Homo sapiens: one gene and its partner. Changing the gene in region 2 together with the main gene of any one other region gives a genetic interaction. Each region holds a gene or a part of one and is shown on either strand. Other genes may lie near its edges.

Region 1 (3,823 bases), on a different chromosome or scaffold from region 2:
GAGATTCAGGAGAGATTTTCCTCCTTCATAAAAGGGAGGAGGGAAAGAACCTCTGTGTCCTAAGCTGGCCTCTGCTAAACTGCACTAAAAAGTGCAGTTCCACTAGGACAGCAGATGCTGCTGGAATCTTATAACCAAAACAGGCCAGTCAAAAAAACCGCATTTCTGTGATATCTTTGAGCTGACCCAATTCTGTGATAGCTTTGAGCTGCTGAACTTGCTATATGAGAAATAAAGAGAACTCTTACTTGTTTAAACAACTCTAGGTTGGGGTCTCCGTCACATTCCTGATAGAAAATCTATTAATATCATTTCAGAAACCTTGACTGGCCATTGATCATGTCATATCCTGAGAATTCCCTGTGCACTGACTATCTCCCAAGTGTGTCCCCACCAAGCACCTGCTACAGTTGTGATACTGTGAGATACAGATTTGGGCTTCATCCCCATTTCCTTGCATACAACTCCTCAAATCTTTGGAATCTCCAAGGCGCTTTTTGTATGCTAATGTTGACTGATACCTTCAGGATGGGGTCCATGGTCACTGGAAAGATAGTCATGGAAAACAGAGAGGCATGATTAGAGGGTTGGGATTTTCAGTCCCACCCCACAACCTCCAGGGATCGGAGAGGGGCTGAAGGTCAAGGTGATCACCAGGTTTAATCAATCCTGCCTACCTAACAATGCCTTTATAAAAACCCAAAAGGACAGGGCCTGGGAACTTCAACATAGCCGAACACACAGAGGTTCCTGGAGGGTGGTGCACCCAAGAAGGGCATGGAAGCTCCACACCCCTTCCCCCATAGCTCACCCTATGCCTCTCTTCATCTGTATTCTTTATACTATCCTTTATAATGAACTGATAAACTTACATGTTTCCCTGAGTTCTGAGAGCTGCTCTAGCATATTAATCAAACCCAAAGGCAGGGTGGTCATGGGAACTCCAACTTGAAGCAGGTAGATCAGAAGTTCTGACGACCCAGAATGGCAACTGAAGGCGAGGGCCAAGGGGCAGTTTTGAGGCCTGAGCCCTCAACCTGTTGGATCCAACACTGTCTCCAGGTCGTGTCTGAACTGAATTGGAGGACATCCAGTTGGCGTGTGCTGCAGAACTGAATGCTTGCTTAGTGGTGGTGAAGAATCCCTCCCCACCCCAACACACATTTAGTCACGGAAGTCTTCTTCTGTGTTGTTGATTGTTGTGTTAAGTGAGAGAATAGGAATTGGGATTTTCCAAAGAGTCCACCCATATGGTTCCATGACAGCACTTACCACCCTAGACTGGGACTCTCTGTGTCCCAGCAGGCCTCGGCACAGAGCCTGCTCTGTGGTGAGTTAATAAATAAAATCCGCCTTCCCACTATATGCACCTGTGGAAAGGGGACCCACTTTTGAAGATCCACCCTGCATTCAACCCATGGAGCCTTCCATAATATGAATGTATATGGTATAATCCCACATGTAGTATGTTTTCCCTGCACATTCAGAATAAAAGCTAAGGCCTTACTCTGGCCTACAAGGCCCAACACAATCTGACCCTAGTCTACTGATCCATTCTCACTGGGCCTGGCTTGTCACAACTGCTTCCTTGATAGTAACCAAAAAAACAAACAGCCCAGTGTATTCCCAACCCAGGCTTTAGCACTTGCTGACTTGGTCCCACACGGTTCCCCAGATGCCCCATTTCCTCAGGTCTGCTCAATCCCCACCATATGACTACCGCAGAACAATGAGCAAGCCAATTTCACTGCATCTTCACAACCAGGCACACGCTGATTCTTCATCATTATCCCCATTTTGCAGATGAGGAATCTGGGTCCAAAGAGGGGAAAGTACTGCTCCAGGGGCACACAGAGAGCACAACTGGCAGAGCGGGGGTTCAAACTTCAGTCACCCTCAACTCTTCCCTCTACATTACCCACCAGCAAATCCCATCAGCCCCCCTCAACATGTCCTGACTGTAACCATACTTCCCCCCTGCATGCTAACACTGGTCCTGGGTGCTTTGTAATGGCACCTCAACAGGGCCCAACCCCTATGACAGCCAGAGGAAGGATCCTTTAAAATTATACCAGAACCCATAATTACTACTGAAAGCCTTGCAATTCCTCCTCCTCCCTCCCATCTTCAAGGCCTTCACCTTGGCCCACAGGCCTCACTTGATCTAGTCCTGGTCTAGTCCTCACCTCCCACCACTTTGCCATTCTCTCTGCCTCAGTCACACTGGCCTTTTTGCTGTGCTTTGAACGCATCAAGCATCCTCCCACTCCTGGCCTTTGTACCAACTATTCCCTCTGCCCAGACTGCTCTTCCACGACCTGTTCATTTCATTCAAATCCTTGTTCAACATCACTTCCTCAGAGCAGCTTTCTCTAACCTCCCTATCTAACAAAGCAGCCCCAGGTGCTTGCTCTATTCCCTGTACCTGTCTTATTTTGTTCTTTTTTTTTTTTTTTTTTTTTTTTGGAGACAGGGTCTTGCTGTCGCCCAGGCTCTCACCGCAGCCTCGATCTCCCTGGTTCAAGCAATCCTCCGACCTCAGTCTCCTGAGCAGCTGGGACCAAGGCCTGTGTCATCACACCAGCTAATTTTTTTTTTTTTTTTGGTAGAGACAGGGTCTCACTTTGTTGCCCAGGCTGGTCTTAAACTCCTGGGCTCAAGCGATCCTTTCACCTTGGCCTTCCAAAGTGCTAGAATTGGCCAGGGGTGGTGGCTCATGCCTGTAATCCCAGCACTTTGGGAGGCAGAGGCGGGCAGGGAGTTTGAGACCAGCCTGGCCAACATGGTGAAACCCACTCTCTACTAAAAATACAAAAATTAGCTGGATGTGGTGGTGGGCGCCTCTAATCCTAGCCACTCAGGAGGCTGAGGCAGGAGAATCACTTGAACCCGGGAGGCGGAGGTTGCAATGAGCAGAGACGGCCTGGACGACAGAGTGAGACTCTGTCTCAAAAAAAATAAAATAAAATAAAACCAAAGTGTTACAATTAGGCTTGAGCCACCACGTCCAGCAATTTTTCTTCTTAGCAATTACTGCCACTGACATCCCACTACAGATCTACTATCTGTCTCCCAAACCAGAATGTAAACCCCACAAGGGCAGCTTTGCTGTTTTGTTCCCTACTGTATGTCTAGTATCTAAAACAGAGTCTGGCACACAGGAGGTGCTGATAAATATTTGCTGAACAAATAAATCAAGACTACAGGATTTCATGTCCCATGTTCCTTCTAGTATCCTGAACTGTCTCAGACACAATTAAAATGTCTGGCATATGAATATAATCAGCAACCGTGTGTCCCACCCCAGATTCTATTCCACCCTTAGGTCCTACTTCCTTTCCTGGCTCCTTCATTTCTCAGCTGCACAGCTTTGGCCATGTTATTTATGGTGCTTCAGTTTCCTCATCTGGAAAATGTGGACAAGGACAGGACCTACTTCAAAGAGTGATTGTGAGAATTCAGTAAGATCGTCAGTGATATTCCTCTGTACTGTACCTAACATAGAGCAAGCACCCAATAATTTGTTACGCAGATGGTTTAAGTCAGAGGTCAGCAATTTTTTCCCTGCAAAGGGTTAGACAGCAAATATTTGAAGCTTTGCGGCCATCTCTGTTACAACCATGCAACTCTGGGCTGTAGCACAAAAGCAGCCATAGGAGCTTCCAGACAGATGAACACCTCGCGGTTCCTGGGGGGTGGAATGCCTAGGGAGGGCATGGAAGCTCCACACAACTTCCCCCACACCTCACCCTGCATGTGTCTTCATCTGTATCCTTTGCAATATTCTTTAGAATAAACCGGTAAGCTGCCTAGCTCTGATCCT
Region 2 (3,823 bases):
AATGTGATGTATATGCATGCTAATGTTGTGAAGCACCATCTGGAAAATAAACAGCTCTAAAAAGAAAGCATGGGGAGAGGTAATAAGATATGTGACCAAGATTTGATATACACAGATTCCAGTTATATTTGCTTTGATCATGTGCCTTCTTGCTTATTTCCAAAGTAATTCTAGCCATGCCTAGAAGTTCATTCTAATTCCTGTAGAACACATTATTAACATTATTCTCTGAAATACTTGAATAAATCAAGAGTAAGTGATTTGGCTAAATCCATGGCAAAGTAAAAATCAATGACAATGCCAGCATCTGAACTTATGATTCCCTATGATTGCATCATTTTTTATTACCATCTTTGAACATATTTTCAAAATCAGCCTTCAATTTTGATGTAACTTATCTAAGTGAGAGTTGATCAAAATTTTAAAAGATTTGAGAGACTTAAGACCCAGTAAAGTTTTAATATAGCCAATGGCAGCAATATCCTAGATTTCAGTAATCCTTTGTAGATTTTTCAAAGCATTTTTCATCTGTTATCTTGTGTGTTCCTCAGGACAGTCCTATCTGAGACGCAACATCCTTATTTTACCAATAAGGAAAGAAAGGCTTAGAGAGATTATGACTACCTTGGGTCTAACCATTAGTAAGGGAGCAAACTAAGTTTAGAAAGCACATTATCTCTGACCTCTGGTCTAGTGTCTTCCTTTGATGACTACTATGTGGGACATGCCCTGGGATGGAATTAGGGTTGATTGTGTCTTCTCACCTTCATTTTGGCAAACACTATTTTGGGCGATTACTCCAAATCTCTCCTAACGTACTAGACTTCTGTGTGGGTATAGTTAGCACACCACTGGCAATCTCTTCTCTGCAAAAAAAAATTAATAATGCAAGAACCCATTTTAGGGACTTGAATCAGATCTCTCACATAGATTAGTAGGTTTAAGGCAAGTCTTTTTTTTCCTTCAAATTTTTGTATCGTTTATTTGCTTAGGGTGTTGGACCTCAGGAATATACTTTACTCAAATTGAAGGTGCTTGAGCCATACCCATCTAAATTAAGGTAGGTTTGCCAGAGTAATTGCTTTATCATTTCTGAACCATCAGATAGTTGTTACAGAGTTGACATGTTTTTACATCAATATTTGTTTTTTTTTCTCAGTGGCCTGAAAGGTAAAAATATTTTCTTGGTGGCTGCTACTCTCAGACCTGAGACCATGTTTGGGCAGACAAATTGTTGGGTTCGTCCTGATATGAAGTACATTGGATTTGAGACGGTGAATGGTGATATATTCATCTGTACCCAAAAAGCAGCCAGGAATATGTCATACCAGGGCTTTACCAAAGACAATGGCGTGGTGCCTGTTGTTAAGGAATTAATGGGGGAGGTAAGTTGGATAGCAGATTTTTTATTTTAATGCGTAAATTTCAAGGAAAATTTCAACAATGAATATTGAGAAAAGAGCATTACAACCTTAAAAAATGAGGTGTACATGCAGTAAACTGTGTAAGTCTTGTGTGTTTTGGTGCATTTTCATATGTATATACACTTACGTAAACACCACCTAAATCAAGATATAGAACAGTTTTAGCACTCCAGAAGGCTCTCTCATGTCCATATCATTAGTACTCACCTCTCTCCTCCAAAGGTAACCACTGCTCTGACTTCACCAAAGATTAGTTGTTGTTCTTGAACTTTACATAATGGAATTGTGTAGTCTGACTGTTTTGTGTCTAGCTTCTTTTGCTTAACATTATGTTTGTGAGATTCATACATGTTGTAGGAATAGTTCTTTTTTTATTGTTGTGTAATATTCATTGTATGACTGTATCATTAAGATAGCATATTTTATTTTTAGGTTTCAACTCGGTAAATATCTGGTTGAAAAATATAGGCAGTCCTCCCCAAGAGATTTAATAGCTGCATTAGTCATTATATTATTTTAAAAATACTATTACCTGAATTCCTGGTAATACTAAATTTGGAATTGTAGCTGCCTTTTTTTTTTTTCATGTGAAGAAAGTCTTGGTTGATATTAATTAAATATGGATGGTTACACAGCTCATCTACTTTATTTTATTTTTATTTTTTTTTTTGTAGACAGTTTTGCCCTTGTTGCCCAGGCTGGTGTTCAGTGGCGCGATCTCAGCTCACTGCACCTCTGCCTCCTGAGTTCAAACGATTCTCCTGCCTCAGCCTCCTGAGTAGCTGGGATTACAGGTGCGGGCCACCACGCCCAGCTAATTTTTTGTATTTTTAGTAGAGACAGGGTTTCATCATGTTGGCCAGGCTGGTCTTGAACTCCTGACCTCGGGTGATCCACCCACCTCGGCCTCCCAAAGTGCAGGGATTACAGGCGTAAGCCACTGTACCCAGCCTTATCTACTGTATTATCAATATTTCTGAGTGTGTTTAATTCCATTTAGTGAATGCTGATCTTTGGTATCTTAAATAATTTTTTAAAAAGAAAAATATGAGTAGAGTACCATCTCAATTCTTTTAAATTGAACTATTTTATTCCTTATTTAATACTTTGATTGCAGTATATTTACAAGTCCCAAAATTCAAAAAACGCAAAAAGATACAAAAGTTCCCCATTCTAGAGGTAGTTAGTAATATCTGTGTCTTGTGTATCCTGGTAATATTTCATGTATACACAAGCGAATACACACATACTCTTTGTCCCTCTGTTTTTACACAAATGGCAATATACTTTATATGCATTGTACCACATCTTGCTTTTTAATTTGTATCTTGGCAATCATTTTGTCAGTACATAAACAGCTTCTTTATTCTTATTTTTTATAGCTACATAGTATTTCATTGTTTGGTTGTACCACAATTTACTTAACCATTCTCTATTAATGGATATTTGAATTGTTTCCTGCCTTTTTCTTTTAAAAGCAGCACTGCCACATCTCTTTAGTTCCTAATGTTGGAATTTTGTCTGAGAAGTTCTTGGGAACAGTATTAGGGACATACATGTTTTCCTATTCTTAATGCAACTTTTCTCCCTGTTAATTTGAGCAAATTCTGGCGTGAGGGACATGGATGTTATAAATTGCAAAATAGTTTCAACATTTAAAATGGTTATAATATTTAGCTGTCATCCATATGACTGCAAATTCTATAAAGGCAGGTTATAAGTACATATATGAATAAAGAGGGGTGGGTGGGAATTATGTGGAAAGGAAAAGTGTGTTCCTTAGCTAGAGCAAGAAGCTGCAAATTCTTTGTTGCCATCTGAGAATTTGGGTCTAAAATTGCTTAATCTTTTGGATTTTTTCAAGTGAAATTAGAACTATCCTTTTACTTTGTCTTCATAACTACTATTTTAAATAGATGTATAGTACCCATTCTTGTTCTTGTAACATATTTTGTTAAATCATTTTTTCTATCATTGAAAGCTTTAGTTGTTTCCAGGCTTTCCTAGTATAATTAACTCAGCATTGGGTAGACTTGTTTAAGAAAAAATAATTAGTTGTTGTTGAGTCTGAGTTACATGAACATTTTGTGGCTTTTGCTGTGGATTCCTATATTTTCTTCAAGGAGTACAATGTCACAAACAATGTATTAGTGTACTCATGTCATAATATTGACAGATTTAGTTATTATAATTATTAAAAATTATTTTTCCGGGACGGGCACGGTGGCTCATGCCTGTAATGCCAGCACTTTGGGAGGCAGAGGTGCGTGGATCACCTGGGGTCAGGAGTTCAAGACCAGCCTGGCCAACATGGTGAAACCCTGTCTCTACTAAAAATACAGAAATTAGCCAGGCGTGGTGGTGCATGCCTGTAATCCCAGCTACATGGGAGGCTGAGG

What was found.
Region 1: changes in LARS1 (region 2) and PPP2R1A together harm fitness more than expected from each alone (negative genetic interaction), as found in Homo sapiens cells (one large-scale study listed by BioGRID).

The regions. Positions count from the first base shown.
Region 1 is NC_000019.10:52,192,731-52,196,553, reverse strand, and holds part of PPP2R1A (serine/threonine-protein phosphatase 2A 65 kDa regulatory subunit A alpha isoform), read right to left. Parts: intron 1-3,823. UniProt on the Homo sapiens protein: The PR65 subunit of protein phosphatase 2A serves as a scaffolding molecule to coordinate the assembly of the catalytic subunit and a variable regulatory B subunit.
Region 2 is NC_000005.10:146,154,965-146,158,787, reverse strand, and holds part of LARS1 (leucine--tRNA ligase, cytoplasmic), read left to right. Parts: intron 1-992; coding exon 993-1,060; intron 1,061-1,159; coding exon 1,160-1,385; intron 1,386-3,823. UniProt on the Homo sapiens protein: Aminoacyl-tRNA synthetase that catalyzes the specific attachment of leucine to its cognate tRNA (tRNA(Leu)).